Linked DNA regions of Homo sapiens: region 2 is linked to region 1. The links come from fine-mapping of genetic effects on gene expression. A gene starts in region 1. The other region holds a variant in brackets. All regions are shown on one strand. Distances are from middle to middle.

Region 1 (16,193 bases):
AATAAATAGAATACACCACTACTAATCCTGCCCAACCAGAATTTCCACTCAACACCAATAAAAATTTGAATATCAATTCCCAACCTGAAGTCCCTTAACCCTTCCAGAAGGGAAGGGAATCAATACTTGGTAAGCATTTAATACAGATCCCTAAAAAAGCATAATAGGTGTCCTGGAAATATGCCCAACATTTCAAAAAAGCGGAATACAAATTACACATATGCTGAAGTAAAATTCCGCAGGCTATTAATAAATGCAGACTGGTAAATCTTTCAAGGTATTATTTCACCACAATATTCCTCTAAATGGGTCCTCCTCTGGTACTTATTCAAAAGATATATAATATGATGCTATGTACTGTAATGGATCGTGCACAAAATCCTACTGAAATACAATGGAAGGAGGAATTAGTTCTGCCTAGAAAGACTTCACAGAGGGAATATCTCAGCAGAATCTGGAAGGATAATTCAGCTCTGTGGGCTGCAGATGCGTCTAAGTGTGTTTCTGGTTACAAAAATTCATAGAATTGAATTTGGATAAGTCTTTAAAGATCACCTAGTCCTGAGGCTTTCCACCTTTATTTTAAACTAATAACATCTTTTCTTCAAAAGTCTAATTGAAACTCCAGTATATAAAACAGGTAATATGGAAGAACTGCTCTTCTGAAAGGGGAGGGTTATTGAAAAACACTGCTGTTCTAACCAACCCCCTTCGTTTTTAAAATAAGCTGAGACACTAAGAAGGACAATGACTTGGCAAAAGCCATATAAAGACAAAAACGCAACAATTTTCAAAGAACAACTCTTAAGCATTATCTACTCTTTGAAGTCTTTCCTTTCTCCCCCGGTGGAATTTATCAATGTATTTCATTCCTCAATATATCTAGGACATACCTCCGTTATGGCTTCTATAAAACTTTAGTGCCCTAGTTTTATTTATTTGTTTTTTGAGACAGTGTCTCACTGCCACCCAGGCTGGAGTGCAGTGGCACGATCATGGCTCACTGCAGCCTCAACCTCTCAGGCTAAGGAATCTTCCTACCTCAGCTTCCCAAGTAGCTGGGACTACAGGCACACACCACCACACCCGGCTAATTTTTTGTGTGTAGAGACAGGGGCTCACTATGTTGCCCAGGCTGGTCTCGAAATCCTGCGCTCAAGTGATCCTCCCAACACGGCCCCCCAAGTGCTGGGATTACAGGCATGAGCCACCACAACAGTCTCTAATTTTTTTTTTTATGTGTCTGTGTCCCTCTCTACTATTGTAAGCTCCCTAAAGGCAGGTACTGGCTCAATCATTTTTGTATATTCACCCAGACTAACATGTTATTTATTACATTATATTTGACCAAGTTTCAGAAAATATTTAATCTAGCTTGGTGCCTAGCACACAGTAGGACTTAACAGGTATTTATCAAACAAATTTACCAAAAATGAGGTCAGTAAATGAAATAACACATCTAAAACAGTTACAACAGTAGCTGAAACACAGTGTAGATTCCATAAATATTAGTTATTATATAACTTTATATAGGCTGGAAAAAACCCTGAAACCATTATTGAACATTTGATCTGGAAGGCAAAAACTAAGCACCTTTTATCAAGTTTTCAACTTGCTCATTTATACATTGCCAATACAGGTTGAGTATCCTTTATCCGAAACACTCGGGACCAAAAGTATTTCAAATTTTGGATTTTTTTGGATTTTGGAATATTTGCGTATACGTAATGAGGTATCTTGGGGATGGGATGCAGTATAAATACAAAATTCATTTATGGTTCATATATACCTTATACACATAACCTGAAGATAATTTTATACAATATTTTTAATAATTTTGTGCATGAAACAAAGTTTGTGTACATGAACCAACCATCAAAAAGCAAAGGTGCCAAGTGTGGAATTTTTCACTTGTGGTGTCATGTTGGCGCTCATAAAGTTTTGGATTTCCGAGCATTCTGGATTTTTGGATTAGGGATACTCAACCTGTACAATCACATCTTTGATGAGAAAGAAAATTTAGCTCATTTATAAAGATCTCTTGACTCTGGCAGCCTGGAGAAAATATATCTAGACTTGAAGTGAAAGGAGAAATTAGGTTGGTCCTGAACTTGGAGCTAAGTGTCATCTGTCAAAGAGGTGTGGTGGGAAGTGGAAAAGATTATCTATAAGGTTGTTTCTTGCGCTAACGCTGTAGGGGCTTATAACAAATTTAGAACTAGAATCCTTCAGCTTTCAATTCACATAAGCAAGAAATTTGTAAAAAATCGGCAAACGGGCTGGGCGGGGTGGCTCACGCCTGTAACCCCAGCACTTTGGGAGAAGAGGCGGGCGGATCACAAGGTCAAGAGATCGAAACCATCCTGGCCAATATGGTGAAACCCCGTCTCCACTAAAAATACAAAAAATTAGCCGGGCGTGGTGGCGAGCACCTGTAGTCCCAGCTACTGGGGAGGCTGAGGCAGGAGAATCGCTTGAACCCGGGAGGCGGAGGTTGCAGTGAGCCAAGATCGCGCCACTGCACTCCAGCCTGGTGACACAGCAAGACTCCGTTTCAAAAAAAAAAAGGAAATCAGCAAATGATACACTGAATTTGGTGTCAGATAGTAGGGGTCATCATACCAGCTCTGTTATTATTTAGCTGTGTGATTCAGAGCAAGAAGCAAACTCTTTGGGTCTCAATTTCCTCAACCTGTTCAACGAAGTTATTGGACAATATGAACTCTATTTAAAATACATCAAAGTCCAGGCCTGGCACAGTGGCTCACGCCTGTAATCCCAGTACTTTGGGAGGCCAAGACAGGAGGATTCCCTAAGCCCAGGAGTTTGAAATTAGCCTGGGCAACATCGCAAGACCCAGACTCTTATTAAAACACACACGCACACACACACACGCAAGATACATCATAGTCATGATACTCCATGAAATAAGCTACCTCTGAAGGAAAATACTCAGGTGGGGACTGAATCACCAATTATTAGAAATGTTTAGAGAACTCCTGTACAAACCAAAAGTAGAGAATTTCAAGGTTAGAAGAAACCTTACAACTCACCCAACTGAGACCTAAGCCCTCTCTAATATATTCCTGGACGAGGTCGCCCAACCGTTTTGGTAATGGAGAACTACCCATGGAAACAAGTCACTTCAACTTAGGCCAAATATGATGCAAAGTTACTTTACTGAAGCCACACCATCCTCTGGTAACTTTCGTCCACTAGTTTCACCTATCACTTAAGTGTCCCTCAAATATTTTGGATAGTGATAATATGCCCCTTAAATATCCTGTCCTCCAAATTAAAGTATCCAACTCCGTCAACCTTTCCTGGTAACATAATACCAAGACTCCCTCACCATTCAGGCTGCGTTCCTCAAAGAAACCTTCATTCTTGCTTTAGCGACTGTATTCAAATGACTCGAAAAGCTTCTCCCATTCTGACGTCTTACAACCCAAGATCTCCCACTTGCCCAGCTGACACCACAGGGAAGCCTCTAATCACGCTTGCCACCTCCACCCAAGGAAGCATTTGGGGTGGAAAGTGTGCCCTGTTGCTCCATTGGGAGACATGGAGACAAGAAGTGACGGCGGCACCGACAGAGAAGCCGGCACACTGTTCGCCTCCCCATTGCAAGCCTCCTCCCTCACCGGTATTGCTTGGGGTCGCTGGGAGACTTGACGATCTCAGGGTCCCCAGCATTACTGAGAGACCCCCTCCGTCCCTCTTCCTCAGATTCATCCGCTCCTAGACGGGCAACCCGGCTGTTCTCGCCCAGATCCTGTCCATTGGGCTGCAGGTCAGGGCAGCTGCAGGTAGACTTCGCCTTGTTCCTTCCAGGCATGGCCAGAATAGGAAAGGGTCTGGCAGCAGCAGAGTCTTCGCACCGACCCCGCGTTTCGATTCCCCAGAGCGCCGCGAGCTCCCGCCCGGCCTCACACAACTTCCTCCGGGTGGCACAGACTGCAGCAACAGTGACTCTCCTCAGCATTCACCACCAAGCTGGAGCGATGGACATCCCGCTTCCCAGGACCCACCTCCTCCGCGTTCTAGAGGCGGTGGCGGCCGGCCCTGGTGCTGCCGCAGCCGCGGGGAACAGGCCTGAACCCCTCCCCCAACCCAGTCTCCCTCTCGCCGACTTCCCTCGTCCCTCCGCCCTCCCGGCCGCCGATGACGCTACTGATTTCAGCCAATCATGAGGCAAGAAAGTAGTCACGCTCACGTAAGCAACCAATCAGAACAGGAAAGGAGAGGCACCAACGTGACCCGGACTGATTCTCGGAACAGCCAGCGAACATTTCGAAACCCAAAGTGGGCGGGGCGAGGGAGAAGAAGCGGAGAGAGTGGCGCGGAGGACGACGGGAGAAGGGCCCCCGGCGCGTTTATGACGTACGAGTGTGTTTTGTGGAAACCACTGAGTAGTGCTCCGCGTGTCAAAGAAAAATATTCCCCTAATGAGAAAACTGAGAAACGAGTGCAGAGAATTAATTCCAAAGTTTTAAATTTTCCCATTCGTGTCATAGTTTGGGTACCCTACTCCTCAGACCCGGGGCGAGCCTTCGGCTGTGACTCAGCACATAAAAAACCAGAACGCCGGAAGTATTTTCCTACACCCGCCGGATGGACGCTGCTCCCGAGCGCCGCAAATACTAATTGGCTCTTCTCTACCCTACAGTCGGCCCGACAGTGGTGGGGTTTCATCCTCAAGCCCTAAGAAAGTGCTAAAAAGACCAGTCTGGATGTGCTAACTCTTCTGTGTGAAAACGTTTTTTAGCTCCTCCAGCCTCCTGTTAAATTCGGCCAATTTTTATCGAGCAGCTGCAGCGTCTGCTGCCTTCAAGTCTCCTTTCCCAGTTTTTCCCGCTAGCAGTGGTCTTTGGTTAGCAATGTAAAATGTGACGGAAATACAAACATAAATGAAAGCTAAAAAGCAGCTGAAATTAGTAAGATGCACTATACTGACACCATGGGGTAAGAGATCATAGCTCATACATACGAATGAGCGGGGAAAGACGTGAAGCAGGGAGATGTGTTGATAGTTACTGTATCTTCAAGGTTTTCGAGGCCTCTTCTGAGTTCCAAATGCAAGGAATACAACCATGAACAAAACAAAACTTGCCTTAGGCTGGGCGTGATAGTGATAGCTCACACCTATAATCCTAGTACTTTGGGAGGCCGAAGCGGGAGGATTGCTTTGAGCCTGGGAATTTGGTACCAGCCTGGACAACATGGTGAGACCCCCGTCTGTACAAAATTCTTTTTTAAAATTAGCCAGGCTTGGTGATGCGTGCATGTGGTCCCAGCTACTCAGGAGGCTGAGGCAGGAGGAACGCTTGAGTCCAGGAGGTCGAGGCTGCAGTGAGCCGTGATTGCAACACTGCACTCCAGCCTGGTTGACACAGTGAGACCCTGTCTAAACAACGACAACAAAAATTTAAAGCCTTGCCTTGGGGGAGCTTGCATCCTAATGGGAAGGAACTGTAAAATATGTAAACTAAAGTAAATCAGGCTTTTAAATAATTCAAGTTAGCTTTCTTCAGAAGTCTTATTGAGGACTGCCACCTGGGAGAGTCAGAGAGTTTTTTTTTTAGACTGCTCCAAAGCAGTGTTTCAGCCCGCAGCTTCTATACAGGTGGTGGCCGCTCTGCATGTGCTTGGAAGTTAAATCAAATGTGCTCAGAAAGGCTGGGCCTGTAATCCCAGTGATTAAGGAGGCTGAGGCAGAAGGATTGCTTGAGGCCAGGCATTTACAACCAGCCTGTGTAACATATCAAGACTCTGTCTCCACACACACATAAAAAAGCAAGGCGTGGTAGAACATCCCTGTAGTCCTAGCTACAGGAGAGGCAGAGTTAAAAGGATTGCTGGGACTCCTGAGTTTGAGGTTACAGTGAACTATGATTGTGCCTCTGCACTCTAGCCTGGTGACAGAGCAAGACCTTGTCTCTAATAAAAAAGAAAAAATGTACTCAGGAGTTACACTAGAGCAAAATCTCATGAAGGTTTAGGTGGAAGAGTACACATGTTTATAGATTATGGAGGCATAGTCATTAATCCTGTCAGAAATGTACAGGAAGAGGCAAGGTCGAGCATCATTGGATTTATCTTTTCTAAAAATGCAGTGATTCAGGCAAGAGACATGGGAACTTGTGCTCTATCCTGCATATTTTCAGGGTATTCTGGAGGGCTGTGCGCAGTCACTGAGGCTGTGAAATTCTGCTGGCAAGAGAGTTTGTGAAATTCTGCTGGTAAACAGAATGAGCAGACATGGCTTCTTATGTTTGCTACTTTGTCTCACATATACAAAAAACAATAAATGCAATGAAGACAAATTGTATAGGATAGGAAGATAAGGAGTTAGGGAGGAAGGGTACAATGATTCAGGTAGAAAATGATGGAACCTGAACTGGAGCAGTAGATGAGGTAAATTGAAAAATACTGTTTAAAATATCCCAGTTTGTTTCCATACATCTTTTCAAGAACTTACCACTTTAAGCAACTCCACTAGACTTCTCTTCTTCAGAGCAGTGGGTTGTTGTTGGTTTTATTTGTTTGTTTGTTTAGAGATGAGTTCTCACTATGTCTATCCAGGCTGGTCTCAAACTCCTGGCCTTAAGCCATCCTCCCACCTCAGCCTCCCAAATCACTGGGATTACTATAGGCATAACTACTGCACCTAGCTCACAGCAGTGGTTTTTAATTAAATTTTTCTAACTAGATACAAAGGTGGGCTGGATCTAATGGCATGTGTCTGTAGTCCCAGCACTTTGGGAGACTGAGGAAGGTGGATCACTTGAACCCAGGAGTTTGAGACCAAACTGAATATAGAGAAAACCTGTCTCCACAAAAAATACAAAGAATTAGCTGGGTATAGTGGTGCATGCTTGTAGTCCCAGCTACTTGAAAGGCTGAGGTGGGAGGATCACCTGAGCCCAGGAGGTCAAGGCTGCAGCAAGCCATGATCATGCCACTGCACTCCAGCCTAGGTGATAGAGTGAGACCCTGTCTCCAAAAAAAAAAAAAAAAAAGAGACAAAGATTGCATCCTGAAGTGTGAGCTGCTTTAAAAAGAGGTCTCTGGCGGAGGTTGCAGTGAGCCAAGATTGCACCACGGCACTCCAGCCTGGGCGACAGAGCGAGACTCTGTCTCAAAAAAAAAAGTCTCTGTGTGGTGGCAGACACCTGTAATCCCAGCTACTCAGGAGGCTGAGCCAGAGAATTGCTTGAACCCAGGAGGTGGAGGTTGCAGTGAGCCAAAATTGTGCCACTGCACTCCAGGCTGGGCGACAGAGTAAGACTCTGTCCCCACAAAATAAATAAAAATAAAAGTCTCTGAATCTTACAGGTTACCAGACTGTAGAAATATGGTAACATGCACAGGAAAAATACCTCTGATGCTGAGCCCAATACAGTTCTAACTCCATAGCACATGTGAGGCAGTCCATTCTTCATTCAACCAACAAATTGAGCTCGTGGTATGTGCCAGAAACTGGGAATACAGTGATGAACAAGAAATTTTCCTGTTCTCTTGGAACATAAAAGAGAACTAGTGGGAGAGACAAACATTAAACAAACACACAAATTTTAAATTTATAATTGTGAGTAGTTCTGGAAAGATATAAACAAAGGGACCTAGACTGGTCAGAGTTTCTCTAAAGAAGGGAAATGGGCCAGGAATGGTGGCTAACCCCTGTAATCCCAGCACTTGGGGAGGCAGAGGCGGGCAGATCATGAGGTCAGGAGTTCGAGACCAGCCTGGCCAACATGTCAAAACCCGTCTCTGCTAAAAATCCAAAAAAAAAAAAAAAAAAAAAATTAGCTGAGCATGGTGGCATGCATCTGTAATCCCAGCTACTCGGGAGACTGAGGCAGGAGAATCACTTAAACCTGGGTGGTGGAGGTTGTAGTGAGCCAAGATCGTGCCACTGCACTCCAGCCTGGGTAACAGCGAGACTCCAACTCAAAAAAAAAAAAAGGTAAATAAGGGAAATGTAAATTAACATTTGAAAAATGTATAGGAATTGGGTGTAGGAATATACATACTTGTTCAAAAGCCCTGAGAAAGCAAGTCAGTATGGCTAAATTGTAGTGTACTAATCTGGAAGCAAAGGGGAAAGCAGTCCGTGGTCGAGATCATAAAGAACCTTCCTATGAGTAAGAGGTCATTGCCTTATCTATTTTATATATCATTGGATCCCCAGCTTCTAGAATAGTTTCTGGCACACTGTGGTACTCAGTAAATAATGGTTGAACAAAAGAAAAGAGAGAGTATGATCACAAGTGTTTTCCAAGTAGACCGCTCTGGCTCATGTATGAAAAACATTGGATGGTGGGGGCAAAGGCAAGACTGGAAGAAAAGAGAGCAGTTAGAAGGCTGCTGAAGTCATATAGGCAATAGAAGATGATACCTTGGATTTGAGGAGTGATAGTGGCGATGGAAAGATGTAGATAAATAATATGTATTCAGGAAGTAGAATTGCCCAGTATTAGGTAGTGATTGATTTGATGTGGGAGAATAAAGAGAGAAGTGTTAGGTATAACTCCCTGCTGTCTGGTTTTCTGGATGGATCGATGATGGTGCCAGTAACTCAGTAAACAGGAAATTCTGAAAAAGGAGTTTTGGTAGGAGAAGAGTATACTAGCTCAGTTTTGGACATGTTAAGTTTGAGTTATTTGTGAGAGACACAGATGAAGATCAGGTCTGAAGCTCAGAAAAGAGACCTAAATTGGAGATAAAAATTTGAGGTTTATTGGTTTCTAGGTGGTAACCAAAGCTTATTGAATGAGATCACCTACACTGAGATTGTGAAGTGAAAAAAGGGCCCAAGGAGAAAGCTTTGAGGAACTTACAGAAGAGGAAGAACTCACAAAAGAGACTGAGAAGGAACTACCAGGGTGTTAAGAAGAAAACCTGTGTGATCACAGGAAAAATACCTCTGATGCTGAGCCCAATACAATTCTGACCCACAGCACATGTTAGAAGTGTCAGATCAGAGGCCCGGTGCAGCGGCTTATGCCTGTAATCCCAGCACTTTGGGAGGCCAAGGCAGGAGGATCAGTTGAGGCCAGGAGTTCAAGACCAGCCTGGTCAACAGGGCGAAACCCTGTCTCTACTAAAAATACAAAAATTAGCCAGCTGTGGTGGTACACCCCTGTAATCCCAGCTACTTGGGTGGCGCATGCCTGTAATCCCAGCTACTTAGGAGGCTGAGGCAGGAGAATTGAACTCTGTCTCAAAGAAAAAGAAGTGTCAGATTAGATATATAAAATATAAGAATTGGCAAGGGATCTCTGAATTATTTTAGTCTGGTGTCTTCAGATATAAAGATAAATACCTATTCAGGTGAAACTCAAAAATGACCAATAGGCATAGCCAGGACTTCCAAACCAGAAGTATTGTTTTCCTATTTAAAATAATTTGGAAAGTTACCATCTCTCATTTGTATTATAAAGAGTATTCCTCAGAGGAAACAGGTAAATTAAGCTATTACTTTGTTGTTGTTGTTGGTGTTGTTGTTTTCCTTTTTGGAAACAGGGTCTAGCTCTCTCACCCAAGCTGGAATTCAGTGGCATGATCTCGGCTGACTGCAATCTCTGCCTCCCAGGCTCAAGTGATTCTCCTGCCTCAGCCTCCCGAGTAGCTGGAACCACAATCACAGGCATGCACCACCATGCCCAGCTAATTTTTTGTACTTTTTGTAGAGGCAGGGTCCATGTTGTGCGGGCTGGTCTTCAACTCCAGGGCTCAAGTGATTTGCCCGCCTCGGCCTCCCAAAATCCTGGGATTACAGGCATGAGCCACTGTGCCCAGCGAAAGTATAACTATTATATAGGAAACTGAGGGCCGAGGTTGCAATGAACTGAGACTGTGCTACTTCACTCCAGCCTGGGCAACAGAGTGAGACTCTGTCTCCAAAAAAAAGGAAACTGAGGCATCAGGAAGTTAAAAGGAACTTGATATCCCCAATAAAGTTAAAGAGTACAAGACTGTAATTTTTAACCTCATTTTCCGAGACCTTCTCTTTTCTTTTTTGAGACAGGGTCTTTCTGTGTCACCCAGCCTAGAGTGCAGTGGTGTATTCATAGCTCACTGCAATCTCAACCTCCTAGACTCAAGCAATCTTCCCACCTCAGCCTCCCAAGTAATTGGGACTACAGGCATGCACCACCATGCCTAGCTAATTTATTTTTAAGAGATGGGGGTCTCACTATGTTGCCCAGGGTGGTCTTGAATTCCTGGCCTCAAGCAATCCTCCCACCTTGGCTTCTCAAAGTGCTGGGATTACAGGTGTGCACCACTGGGCTCAACCCAGACTTTTTCTTTAAGTTTATTTTTTAATTTCTTAATATTTCTTCGGTTTCAGACCCTGACAGACTTTCTGAGAGTACAGTATTTAAAGGCTTTTTTACATTTCCACTTCGTCTTCAGCCACCTTAAACTCCTTTCCATTTTTACCTCAAGGATTTCCCTCCCATCAGATTTGGTGAGCCTTGTCTCCCTATTATTCTGGTGAAAGTTTAGAAATCATGAAAATTAAAAACAGCTCATTTCTGTGTTCGATCCCTGCCTCTGAAAGTTAATTTAGTCAATGCAAAAGGGACAGATCTGAGCCTTAATTTTTTTTTTTTTTTTTGTAGATGGAGTCTCACTCTGTTGCCCAGGCTGGAGTGCAATGGCGTGATCTCGGCTTACTGCAACCTCTGCCTCCCAGGTTCAAGCAATTCTCCTGCCTCAGCCTCCCAAGTAGCTGGGATTACAGACATGCACCACCACACCTGGCTAATTTTTTGTATTTTTAGTAGAGACGGGGTTTTGCCATGTTGGCCAGGCTGGTCTTGAACTGCTGACCTCAGGTTATCCACCCGCCTCAGCCTCCCAAAGTTCTAGGGTTACAGGCGTGAGTCACCGTGCCCAGCCTCAGCCTTACTTTTAAAAATTAAAAGATAAATTATTCTTAATTATCCATCTTTATAATTGAAAGTCAGGATAAGGCAGAAATGTGGAATGTTGACTCTACATTGAGTAGATTGGAATAGTATGAGCCCATTAACATCTCAAACCCCAAATTATCTCCCCCTTGCTTTAATGTCTAAAATTCCTTCATTAGTGATTTATGTCCCTTTTTATAACTCTTGTTAAATGCCAATAACACCCTCGAAAGGATTGAAAAACTAACCCATTTTGTGAATGGATATGTTTTATTTCCTCTAGTTCGAAGCACACTCTAGGCAACTTCAGATCACTATGAATCTGGGGTAGGTGAAGAGATTGCTAAATCTAGGGGGAAAGACACAGAAAGAAGAGGTAGGTAACAAGAGAAATATTACCCACTTCAACATTTTGTCCAGGGCCCATGCGCTAAGAAATTATACCTTTGGAGCTCTGGTTATTAATTGTCCCACCCACTGATTGCTATCCACATTTGGCAGCTTTGTATCTAGGTCAAGAAGTAGGCATGTTCTTATGGAGTCTTCTCCCCCGAAACTGAATGTGTGCACAATATACCAAGCAATTTGTGTGACCATAGAAATAGTTTTCTCAGCCAGGCACGGTGGCTCATGCCTGTAATCCCAGCACTTTGGGAAGCCAAGGCAGATGGATCACCTGAGGTCAGGAGTTCGAGACCAGCCTGGCCAACATGGTGAAACCCCATCTCTACTAAAAATAGCAAAATTAGCCGGGCATGGTGGCTCATGCCTGTAATGCCAGCTACTTGGGAGGCTGCGGCAGAAAAATCACTTTAACGCAGGAAGCAAAAGTTGCAGTGAGCTGAGATTGCACCACTGCATTCCAGCCTGGGCAACACAGTGAGACTCTGTCTCAAAAAAAAAAAAAAAAGTTTTCTCCTATACTATAAACATAGTTCTAGAAGAATTTGATGTTCAAAACTTCGTGATAAATTAGGAGTGACTCTAAAAAATGTGACAAATGAAATATTATTTTATCACAAATCAAGCTAAGTTGCTCCTCATCTCTGGACTAAAGATACATATTTTTTGAAACTCTGCCTGGAAAGAAGAATGTAAAGACACAAAATAATATTTAAAAATCTAATTATATTATTCGCTTTTAAGAAACCCATCATGGCATTCCTTTGCTCTTTGAATAAAATCCAGCCTCTTGCTATCGCTTATATGGCTTGCTTATTAATTATTTCTGTCCTTCCTCTAAGTCTACCATCTCATCTACCATTCAGCTTTTTGCTCCAGTCACACTGGCTTTTTAATGTCCTTCAACACACTAGAGTAGTTCCTGCTTTAGGGCCATTACCTCTGCCTCTCTGCCTGGAGTGTTCTTACTCTAAATTTTGCATAGCTGAGTTCTTCACACCAGTCATATGTCAGAAAACATGTCACTCTTAAGAGAGGCCTTTTCTTATTCTATCTAAAATAGTACTCATGGTCAGGCACGGTGGCTCACACCTATAATCCCAGCACTTCGGGAGGCCGAGGCGGGTGGGTTGCTCAAGCCAGGAGTTTGAGAACAACCTGGGCAACATGGTGAAACCCCGTCTCTACAAAAAATACACACACACACACACACACACACACACACACACACAAATTAGCCAGGTGTGGTGGTACATGCCAGATACTTGGGAGGCTGAGGTGGGAGGGTTGCTTCAGCCCAGGAGGGTGAGGCTGCAGTGAGCCATGATCATGCCACTGTGCTCCAGTCTGGATGACAGAGCAATACCCTGTCTCAAAATAATTAATTAAAATAATACTCATCATCTGAAATTATATTATTTGTCTATTAGCTTACTGTTTAGGCCGGGCGCGGTGACTCACGCCTGTGATCCCAGCACTTTGGGAGGCGGAGGTGGGTGGATCACAAGGTCAGGAGTGCGAAACCAGCCTGGCCAAGATGGTGAAACCCTGTCTCTACTAAAAATAAAAAATTAGCCGGGCATGGTGGCAGGCGTTTGTAGTCCCAGCTACTCGGGAGGTTGAGGCAGGAGAATTCCTTGAACCTGGGAGGCGGAGGTTGCCGTGAGCCGAGATCGTGCCACTGCACTCTAGCCAGGGTGACAGAGCGAGACTCCATCTCAAAAAAAAAAAAAAAAAGCTTACTATCTATACATACCCTCTGTATGTTATAGGCCCATGAGAAAGCTGGTACCTCATTTGTCTTGTTCCCCACTACATCCCTAGAGTCAAAAATGGGGCCTGGCATGTGGTAGGTATTCAACAAATACTTGTCAAATTGATGAATGAATGATACAGGAAATTGAAGTTTCAAGATCCCTGGAGAGACAGAAGAGTGGGATTAGCCTTAAATTGTAGAGGAACACCATTATCATTTGGCCCAGAAGGAAAGATACACAGATAGGTGCAAATGCAGCAAAAATTTTACATCGTTTTAGGAAGAAAGAAGCAGAAAGAAGCAGCAGGAATTTAAAAGAGTTCCCTTCTAATAGTCCCCAGCCTCCTTTTTTGTTTTGTTTTGTTTTGTTTTGAAACATGATAGAAAGTCAGTGTTGGGACTGAAAGGATAGGTAGTAGTATAGAATGTTCTGCTTTCATGGGAACTGGTAAATGCGATATTTGTCTTTCTTTTTTTTTTTTTTTTTGCTTGTTTAAATTTCACATGTCTTGAAGCCAAGCCCAGCTGGTAGTTTCTGTTTCTTGAGTAACTGTAATACTTTGTGCCAAGACTGTTTCTTTCTTTTTTGGGGGGATGTGGGGTTGGGGGGAAGAAGTCTTGCTCGGTTGCCCAGGCTGGAGTGCAGTGGTGCAATCTCAGCTCACTGCAACCTACGTCTCCTGGGTTCAAGCAGTTCTCCTACCTCAGCCTCCTGAGTAGCTGGGATTACAGGCACCTGCCACCATGCCCAGCTAATTTTTGCATTTTTAGTAGAGACGGGGTTTCACCACGTTGGTCAGGCTGGTCTCGAACTCCTGACCTCAGGTGATCTGCCCGCCTCAGCCTCCCGAAGTGCTGGGATTACAGGCATGAGCCACCACACCTGGCCTCTAAGACTGTTACTTTCATTAACTCACTTAATCCTCACAGCAACCTAAATATGTTATTCACCAGTTTATAGATGAAGAAACTGAGGTCGAGAGAAGTTAGATAACTTGCACAAAATCAACAATAGGAAAGTTGGACTACTGAAATTGCAAACCATGAGTGTCTGATTCCAAAGATTATATTTTTTCATCTCTTACATGTTGCCTGTCACATACCTAGAATAAATAGACTTATGATGTGTTAATTTGATCATTGATATTCCCTGCTGTAGTTAACCCCAAGTCTAAGCTTTACTTTATTTAATTTTATTTTATAGAGACAGGTTTTCACATGTTGCCCAGGCTGGTCTTGCACTCCTGGGATCAAGCAATCTGCCCACCTTGGTCTCCCAAAGTGCTGGGATTATAGGGTGTGAGCTACTGTGCCCAGCCAACCCCCCAGTCTAAGCTTTAAATGTAATATGCACAGTAACAAATGTTATAACATGTACACGAAAATGACAGTTGATAACTCTCATTAAGAAAGCATCTGGCTTTCCAACAGCCTGCCTACCTTCTAAATAATTGTGTCTAAAAATCATTTACTTAGGTAGAGCTAAGCAAGCCTGGCACCTGTGTCCAGCATGTGTGGTAACAGCATGATGATATTTGTTAGAGCATGCACGGTTAAAGAGGGTGACCACATAGGCTGATAGTGCAAAGTGTCCGAATCCAAGCAGAGTGAGGAGGGGAGAGGTGAGGGCCGCAGTAACAATGGGAGATTGGTTACAAACGGGTGATTTACCAAATAAATAAATATATTGAGGATAATGGGAGATGGGATCCAGGCTTCTCACTGTAGATGTAAGGAGTTACAAATATGGAAAAGCAGAAAATTAGAATGAACTCTGTGGTGTTGGATTGGAATTGTAGGTATTTGTGTAAACTCATGATTTGCAATAGGTGGACATAGAATAAAACATAGATGTGTGTGTGTGGCCGGGCGCAGTGACTCATGCCTGTAATCCCAGCACTTTGGGAGACCAAGGTGGGTGGATAACCTGAGGTCAGGAGTTTGAGACCAGCCTGGCCAACATGGCAAAACTCCATCTCTACTAAAAATACAAAAACTAGCCTGGCGTGGTGGCACCCGCCTATAGTCTCAGCTACTTGGGAGGCTGAGGCAGGAGAATTGCTTGAACCCGGGAGGTGGAGGTTGCAGTGAGCCGAGATTGCACCACTGCACTCCAGCCTGGGTGACAATGCAAGACTCTGTCTCAAAAATAATAATAAAATGTGTGTGTGTATGTGTATGTGAGTATGTATATACATACATATATTTTCTAGCTATGTTCACTAAGAGGACCTAGGAGCAGTGACACCCCAACAGCAATGAGCATACCTAACACCTCCATTTTGGTTTCCAAATGCATTTTGCACTAAAAGGCCATTTTCCAATAAAAAGAACCAAAGCTTCCTGGAGAAATGACTGATTCCAAGGCTAGGGCAGAGAAGGTACAAGATGAACCTGGAACATCTTGCTAAGCCACAAAGTAAAGAAGTATTCATAGAATAATGAGAACATATCAAAAAGACACAGAGTCCAGCTTGGAGGGACTCTCACTCCCAGGGCCAGAATGTGGACAATTTGAGCCTCAAAATAAATAACAATAGTATTAATGGGAATTAATGTGTCTAAACTGCTGAATGAATGAATGAAAGAAGAAAACTTTTTGTTACAGTATAATACCAACAATAAATGTACAAGCAATGATGGAATTAGAAAATCCCCATTTGGCAACCATAACAGTAATAAATCAACCAAGAAACATCTATGTATGCTAAACTTCTTGGTACACATCTGATGAGGAATGGAATATTTACATAGTCTCAAAGTACCTCTTCACAAAATACTTATTAATTAAGAAGGGACAAAGAATAACTTAACAGTGGAAAAACCTGGCAAACACCACTTAATCTGTAAACTAATATTATTAGTAAGGAGACAAATTGAAATTGCTATAGCCTGACAGTATGTCACGAGGAAAAACCCAGCATGCCTTCTGTGCTATTCCTGCCCAAAATGCGTAACTTGAATCTAATCAAGAAGAAACACCAGACAAATCAAATTGAGGGATATTCTATAAAATAACTCACCTATAATCTTTACAAGTAGCAAGGTCATGAAAGTCGAAGAAAGACTAAAGAATTGTTCTGATTAAAGATTAATGAGACATAACTAAATGC
Region 2 (8,000 bases), 54 kb before region 1:
TCGGCCTCCCAAAGTGCTGGGATTACAGGCGTGAGCCACCGCGCCCGGCTATCTAATTCTTAAAAATAAAACACATGAAGCAAGAATGCCCTATAAAATGTATATAACTGTACAGAAATATACAGGGAAACAAAACACCCTTTAAAGAATAATTCAGATCATCTCATCCTAAATTTTACTCTATAGTCAACAGGATTAATATGAGGCTGTAACTAAATCCTCCCACTAAGAAAATGCCATTATGAAAAACAGACACCAGTTAAACAGTTTACTAGATGAACAAAATTAAGTCGCAGTTCAAAAACTCTTACAGAAACTATTGCTAACTCTGTTGACAAATGGAAATGTCAGGCTGAGGTAGAGCACAGACTTTATAATCAGATAAACAGATGTTCAAATCTCACATCCACCACTTACTATCTGTGTGATTTAAACAAATGAGATAACTTGACTGAAATTTAAAATAGAGATGGGGTCTCACTATGTTGCCAAGGCTGGTTTTGAACTGGTCTCAAGTGATTCTCCCACCTCAGCCTCCCAAAGCATTGGGATTACAGGTGTGAACCACCACGCCTGGCCTAAACCTGTTTATCTTTAAATGGAGATGATAATGGTACCTATCTCTGAACATTGTGATAATGATCAAATGAAATAATTCATGTAGTGTTAGCACAGTATCTGGCACTTAAAAAGCATTCACAAAATGTTAGGTGTTACTCTTGCTATATTCACTGTTAGAGAACCAAATAGAGGCATATTTAACAACTTCGCGTTTGAAAGGCTAACTAGCTATCCTAAAAGGTAAAAGGTACCTAGGGACTCTAGCTTTATAATTTTCAATTCTTTATCAACTTTTCTTATTCTAAATCTTAACTAGAAAATATGAAATAAGATGATGTATTTAGTATCTTACCCCAAAAAAATTTTCCCATAGGATGTCCAGGTCTAGCAAGGCTTCCAAACAACATTTCCTTTCTGTTTGCATCAGAAGGCCTTGCAAGTTGATATTCTGTCAATTTTAAATAAACACATAATAAAACAAAATTCAGTATCTCCTTTATTATATGGAAATTCAAACTTACAGAACAGAAAGCAAGGAATTAACAAAATTAACTTCATGAATCACGTGTTATAAGACTGAAGTGGGAAACTCAATGATCCAGGCCTGGCTCTATGACTTAATATGACCTGTAATTTTGGGTAAATCAATTCAGCTTACCAGAGTCTTACTCTTATTTTTCAAATGAAACACAAGGTAGTTAATAATCTGAAAGTTTCAGCTCTAGGATGCTATGTACAAGATTTTACTGATGAAAATGCTAATAAAATATTAATCCTTTTATCTGGGAATTTGGTCATATATATTGTTTAAATTTCTTCCAAAACCAACTATGTTGGTAATAAAGTATGATGGCTAAGAACAATCCACTTTGAAGTCAGAAATACCTTTAGCTACCGCTAAAGACTGAATGTTTGTGTCCCCCCACCCAAAATTTCTATGTTGAAACTTAATCCCCAATGTGATGGTATTTGGAGGTAGGGGCCAATGAGAAATGATTAGGTAATGAGGGCAGAGCCCTCATGAATGGATTAGTCCCTTGTAAAAGAGACCTCAGAGTGCTCCCTTGCCCCTTCTGCTGTATGAGGACAAAGAGTGAAGGCAGTTTTCTATGAACCAGAGAGCAGGCTGTCACCAGACACCAAATCTGCCAGTTCTTTGATCTTGGACTTCTCAGCCTCCAAAACTGTAAGAAACAATTCTGTGGTTTATAAGCCACCCGGTCTGTGGGATTCCATTATGGCAGCCCAAATGGACTAAAAACCGCTAGAACTGCAGTTCTGACACTAAGCTCAACAACCTTGAGGAAGTTATCTAACGTACCTGATTCCATTCCTCCAAAACTGTAAGAAAATAAATGTTTTATTTTAAGCCACCATGTTTCTGCAATAACAGGTAATATAGCAGACATGTAAACATATCTACGAAAAGTGATTTAAGACCCCTTGCAACTGATAAAAATAGAGTATAAATATCTGAACACTTAGAGACCATATTTGGAAAGGAAACAAACATTAAAAATGAAGAAGTAAGTAAATAAAAATAGAGACTGCACTTTGACACATAATTAAGATTTAAAAAGGCATTGGACATGCCTTTCATCTCAATCACTAAGACATACTATGCAGGCAATTATATATGTTTATGTGAGTATAAACCATCATTAAAATAAAAAGTCAATTATTAAAAATAATTTATCAGCCGGGCGCAGTGGCTCACACCTGTAATCCCAGCACTCTGGGAGGCCGAAGCAGGCAGATCATGAACAAAAGCACAACAGAATTTTTACTTTAGTTCAGCATAAACCAAAACTCCATACTGTGTGTGTATATACATATATATTTCTTTCAGCATAATTTTTCAAAGCATAATAAAATATATTCTGGCTTAAAATTGTAAAATCTAATTAAAGGTCTGCTTGTTTAAACACTGGTGTCAACCCACTCTAGAAACTGTATAAAGAAAAACATACTAGAAAGCATTTAAGACACAGATAACAGTTCTTGAGTCTCAAAATATGAAAAGTGCTTTTAGTTATCCTTAGTTGTTTTGTTTTTTCATCCATTCAACAGGTATTTAACTGGGTTTAAGGTAAAACAGACACTGTGGTAGGCAAGTAAAAAAATAAAGAAAATAAATCCTTGATTTCCAAGGAGCTACTACAGCTAGGAGGAGCTTAACCATTCCATCCTTTTTTACAAATAAACTGAATGCCACAGCTAGACACTTCTGTAAGTTAAACAGGGGTCTGTTGACTTCCAGATAGATCACTCTAGCCATCTGTAGTTTACTCAGCCTAGTAAATGCTTTACATCATTATTAGAACTAGACACTGCATCAAACCAAGGAGGGAAATACTACAAAAAGTGGAACAAATACAGAGACTTGCAGTGGCTATAAGCCAAGCCTAACCTATATGAACTGGAAGTCCCCTCAAGTCTAGTATTAAATGCTTCTAATACTTAAATAAATCAAGCAGGGATAATATACAATGGTGATATTTATTGGTACTATGTAATTAAGGAATATTTATAGCACAGATCTATAATGAAGCCTCACCCTATATAAGCACATTCTTTTCCTTTATAGTCTTCAATCTTTGAATCTCAAAAGATTAGCCCCTATGGTAAAACCTTCGAAAAACAAAGGATGAAAAAACTAAAATCCACCATCCTTTTCATTTACTTCAAATCTACACTGAATTAGATGTTTAATGACTTCAGGAACAAACATAACACATATTTCAATTTAGTCCTTTAAAATATAAAGATAAAATGGTCTAGAGATAAAGAAGGATAAATGTAATAAGTAACTGGTTTCATGAAGGAAAAAACTGTAGTTACACATAAAGTACTCCTCTTACCACTATCAACAGCTTCAACTTCACGGTCAATTGCATCTCTGATCATTAGTGGGTGGATGAAGAACTGCGCCCATCTGAACAAAAAACAAAACTGGCATTTCC[G/A]TTTTTGTTCACTTTCATCAATCAACATCTATTATTTTAATTAAGAAACTTACTAAGTTGGAGATTTAATTCACAATCCTAAGTATATAAAATCTAAATAATCTGCATTTCTATATTTTAAACTAATATCTACATGTTACTTTAACTTTTTCATTGTGAAATATATTTAATAACAATCATACAGAAAAGTTAACAAAACATGAACATATAAACTACACCTGAGTGGCCCACCCAGGTGAAGAAACAGACCATAGTCAACACTCTAGAAGCACCCAGCTCCTACCCTTACCTCAAGAAATATCCTGAATGTATAGCAGTAATTTCTCTCCTTTTCTTTATAGTTTTATTACCTATATACCTATTTCTAACCCAATGTTTATCAACCCTTTTTATTTCCATTTTCAACCCTTAGGAGCCTTTTCGGAAATGTTCTCCTATTCATTCCTTTGTAAAATTGTAATATCACAGATAGTCTATTTATGTAATGTTATGTATATCCATGTTTTTATAGAGTATATAAAGCTTACTTTTTTAGTTCAATGCAAGTTTACAGATGACTAAAAACGTTTCAGTTAAAAGTTAAATTAGAATTTTAAAGACTTGGTATTTAAGTTAATCTTATAATTTCATCTGCTTTTTAAATTAATTTTTAATTATATAAACTGTGATGTATCAAATTACATATACAAATTACCACTTATATAAATACATAATAGCAATGCAATTAAATTGTTAAAAATTATTCAAAGATTGGTGTATTGGTGTTTTTCCAGCAAAATAGAATGATTTAAAAAATTAATTTCCTAAAATGTTTAGTAAACTTTTTTTTTTTTTTTTTGGATATAGTGTCTCACTCTATCACTCAGGCTAGAATGCAGTGGCACAATCACTGCTCACTGCGGCCTCAAACTGCCGGGTTCAAGCAATCCTCCTGCCTCAACCTCCGAAGTAGCTGAGACTAGAGGTGTGCACTACCATTTTTTTTTAAATCTTTAAATTTTTTATAGAGACAGGGTCTCCCTATATTGCTCAGGCTTCTTTAAAAAACTTTTAACTTTTGCTTGCAATAAGGTAACTTTTAACTTAACTACCTGCTAGATATATTGGGGCATTTTTTTTCTTTTCAGTACTTGGTATGATTAATGATGGGTTGGATAATTTCTGTTGACTTAAATAATGAAACTAATTTTATTTAATTCTGTCACCCAGACTGGAGTGTGTAGTGGCACATCACGGCTCACTGGAGCCTTGAACTCCCCAGGCTCAGGTGATCCTCCCACCTCAGCATCCCAAGTAGCTGAGGCTACAGGCATGTACCATCATGCCCTGCTAATTTTTTTCCCTCACCATGTTACCCAGACTGGTCTCCAGCTGCTGGGCTCAAGTGATCCACCTGCCTTGGCCTTCCAAAGTGCTGGGATTATAGGCATGAGTCACCATGCCCAGCCTACTAACATTCTTAAAAGATATTTTTATTTAGTGTACAATTTATGATTCTAGTTATTAGTTGGTAGTTATTTTCCTTCAGAGCACGAAGTTGAGTAGTCATCTGTAAGTGTAACTCATCTTCCTTTGAAGAAAATTTTCTCTTTATCTGGCAAAAATTTTCCATATTTCTTCTAATGTATCCTTTTGGAAGTTATTAGACTTTAACCTCTGATTTGATGTCTTACAACAGGTTCTGAAAATTTTCCAGTGATCAACCCTTCAACTGTTGTCTCTACTTCAATTTTCTCTCTCCTCCTTCTACAACTACAAGTAAAATACATGGGATGTTTTCATTCTATCCTCTATGCTTCATATTCTTTGTATTTTTAATTTTGTGCTATATGCTATATTTGGGTTATATATGTTCTTTATGCTATACTTGGGTTAATTCCTTCTGTCTTATCTTCTGGCTTACTAATTCTATCTTCAACTCTATTTACTCTTAAACTTGTCCATGACATTTTCAATTTTTTTTATCATAGTTCAGTTCAAGATGTATCTTTTCATTTTACAAATTTCCTAGGTCATATTTGACAGTTTCTTATTCCTTGCAAGTATATTCAAATTTGTCTTTTATTTCTTTTTTTTTTTTTTTTTGTGACAGAGTCTCGCTCTGTCACCCAGGCTAGAGTGCAGTGGCACTATCTCGGCTCACTGCAAGCTCTGCCTCCCACGTTCAAGCGATTCTCCTGCCTCAGCCTCCCAAGTAGCTGGGGCTACAGGCACCCGCCACCGGACCCGGCTAATTTTTGTATTTTTAGTAGATATGGGGTTTCACCATATTAGCCAGGCTGGTTTCAAACTCCTGACCTCGTGATCCACCCGCCTCGGCCTCCCAAAGTGCTGAGATTACAGGCATGAGCCACTGCGTCTGGCCTTTATTTCTTAAAAAATAGAAAGTATAATTATTTTAGAAATTGTGTGTAACTATGCCAGTACTTGAGATGTCTCAGAATCTGTTTGTGTTATCTGTTCTCAATCATGTTGTATTATTTTCCTGAGTACCTGCTTATTTTTGACTGAATGTTGGTTATTTTACTTGAAAAAATATTTGTAACAATTTAGGGCCTAGAAGGAAGGCATCTTCCTTTTGAGATGCCTTATGTTTGCTTCTCCCAGGCTCCTGGGAACACTACCAGTTCTGCCCATGAAGCTACAATCAAGACTTGGGGTTCCCCAGAATACTCAGGCACTTGGAATCTAGGCTATAACTACTCAGGACGCCTCATCCTTTTTCACAACCTGAAAGTGAAGATTTTGTATTCCCGCTTATAATGGGGAGGGTCTCCTGTTAGAAGTGGACATCCTAAGCTTTGATATTTGTCACTCTTACCATGAAATACTGATAAAATAAAGTTCAAATTTACTGAAAATAGAAGACGCCACCATGGTAAAGACGGCTTCCATGCTCACTTACTTAACTGGAGTAAAAATTTAGTCATTTCCTCAGCTGTTTATTTAAAAGATACTTATAAACAATGTGGCCTGTGTGAGGGAATCAGATTTTGCTAACCTATTAAAAACAGGTACTTAATCCATGTTATATAAGAGCATATTACACACGTATAAAGGCTTTTCCTTATACATTGTAGAAGTATAATATTATAGCATTTATTATAGTATTTGCACCCTATAATGCTCTACTTATGGCATAAATTTATGATTTGATATTCTCATTAATTTATCCTATTAATGCAGTGGCTTTCTTATTGGGTGGCTTTCTTTTTAAATAAAAATAAATGTGTAAGGTGATATTCTTAGATGCTGAAGCAGTCCTTGTACAAAACATATTTAGAACAACTCTTTAAAAGGAAACAAAACAAATTTCTTAACTACATTTTATACCAAATTTCATCATCTCTGAGATGGCCAGAATGTATTCATATCATACATACCATTTGCCTATCCTTTTTCCCAATAAAATCAGTTATTTTTCCTTCTTTGTATATGGACAAAGCTAAATATAAAGTTGTAAAAATTCAACTTGTCTTCTGCTTAAGATTTCTTCACACATACAAAGACCTGTTTGGATTCTGTAAAACTTAAGAGCTGAGAACTCTGTAACAAGAGTAAAGATGCAGTTTTCTTCAAAGTTGTATGGTTAAAGTCTCCTCTGAAGGTATTGCTGATCCTGTCTAAATTTATAGGAAAGATCATCTCAGGCATCATTTGCATTGCCTTCATTGATTTATCTTTCTTTTTTTTTTTTTTGAGACAGGGTCTCGGTCCATCACCCAGGCTGGAGTACAGTGGTGCGATCTCAGCTCACTGCAACCTCCGTCTCCCAGGTTCAAGCAATTCTCGTGCCTCAGCCTCCCAAGCAGCTGGGATTACAGGCCTGCGCCACCACACCCAGCTAATTTTTGTATTTTTAGTAGAGATGGGGTTTCACCATGTTGGCCAGGCTGGTCTCGAATTCCTGGGCTCAAGTGATCCACACACCTTGGCCTCCCAAAGTGCTGGAATTATAGGCATGAGGCTGCAGTCAGCCGAGATCACATCACTGCACTCCAGCCTGGGCAACAGAGTGAGACTGTCTCCAAAAAAAAAATAAATAAATAGTGGCATATGCTTCCAATTTATAGGAATATGTCCAAAGGATTTTTCCAGATCAAATTAATCTCTTAAGAAAAGAGATAATTTCTTTTTATTTTATCTTTTTTATTTTATTTTGTTTTTGAGACAGAGTCCCACTCTGTCACTCAGGCTGGAGTGCTATGGCATGATCTCAGCTCACTGCAACCTCCGCCTCCTAGGTTCAAGCAATTCTCCTGTCTCAGCCTCCCAAGTAGCTGAAATTACACGCACATGCTACCAAGCCCAGCTAATTTTTGTGTTTTTAGTAGAGACAGGGTTTCACCGTGTTGGCCAGGCTGGTCTCGAACTCCTGGCCTCAAGTTATCCGCCCACCTCGGCCCCCCAAAGTGTTGGGATTACAGGTGTGAGCCACCACACCAGGCCAATTTTTAAAAAAAATATTAGATCTCT

What was found. PIP is the estimated chance that this variant, and not a neighbour inherited with it, causes the effect.
Region 2: its variant is fine-mapped to the expression of NRDC in whole blood (INTERVAL, PIP above 0.99).

The regions. Positions count from the first base shown.
Region 1 is chr1:51,874,631-51,890,823 of GRCh38, forward strand. It overlaps NRDC (nardilysin convertase), which reads right to left and starts at 4,097. Exons shown (of 31, transcript NM_001101662.2): 1 at 3,645-4,097. The coding sequence starts at 3,985. RefSeq lists enhancers at 1,887-2,418, 4,087-4,381, 4,265-4,444, 4,835-5,388 and silencers at 4,135-4,184, 6,142-6,339, 8,693-8,893.
Region 2 is chr1:51,824,374-51,832,373 of GRCh38, forward strand. NRDC (nardilysin convertase) reads right to left here. Exons shown (of 31, transcript NM_001101662.2): 5 at 3,423-3,496; 6 at 914-1,009. Among named protein-coding and RNA genes, the nearest start is that of MIR761, 8.0 kb to the right of the region's middle. The variant G/A (reference allele first, on the strand shown) is at 3,525.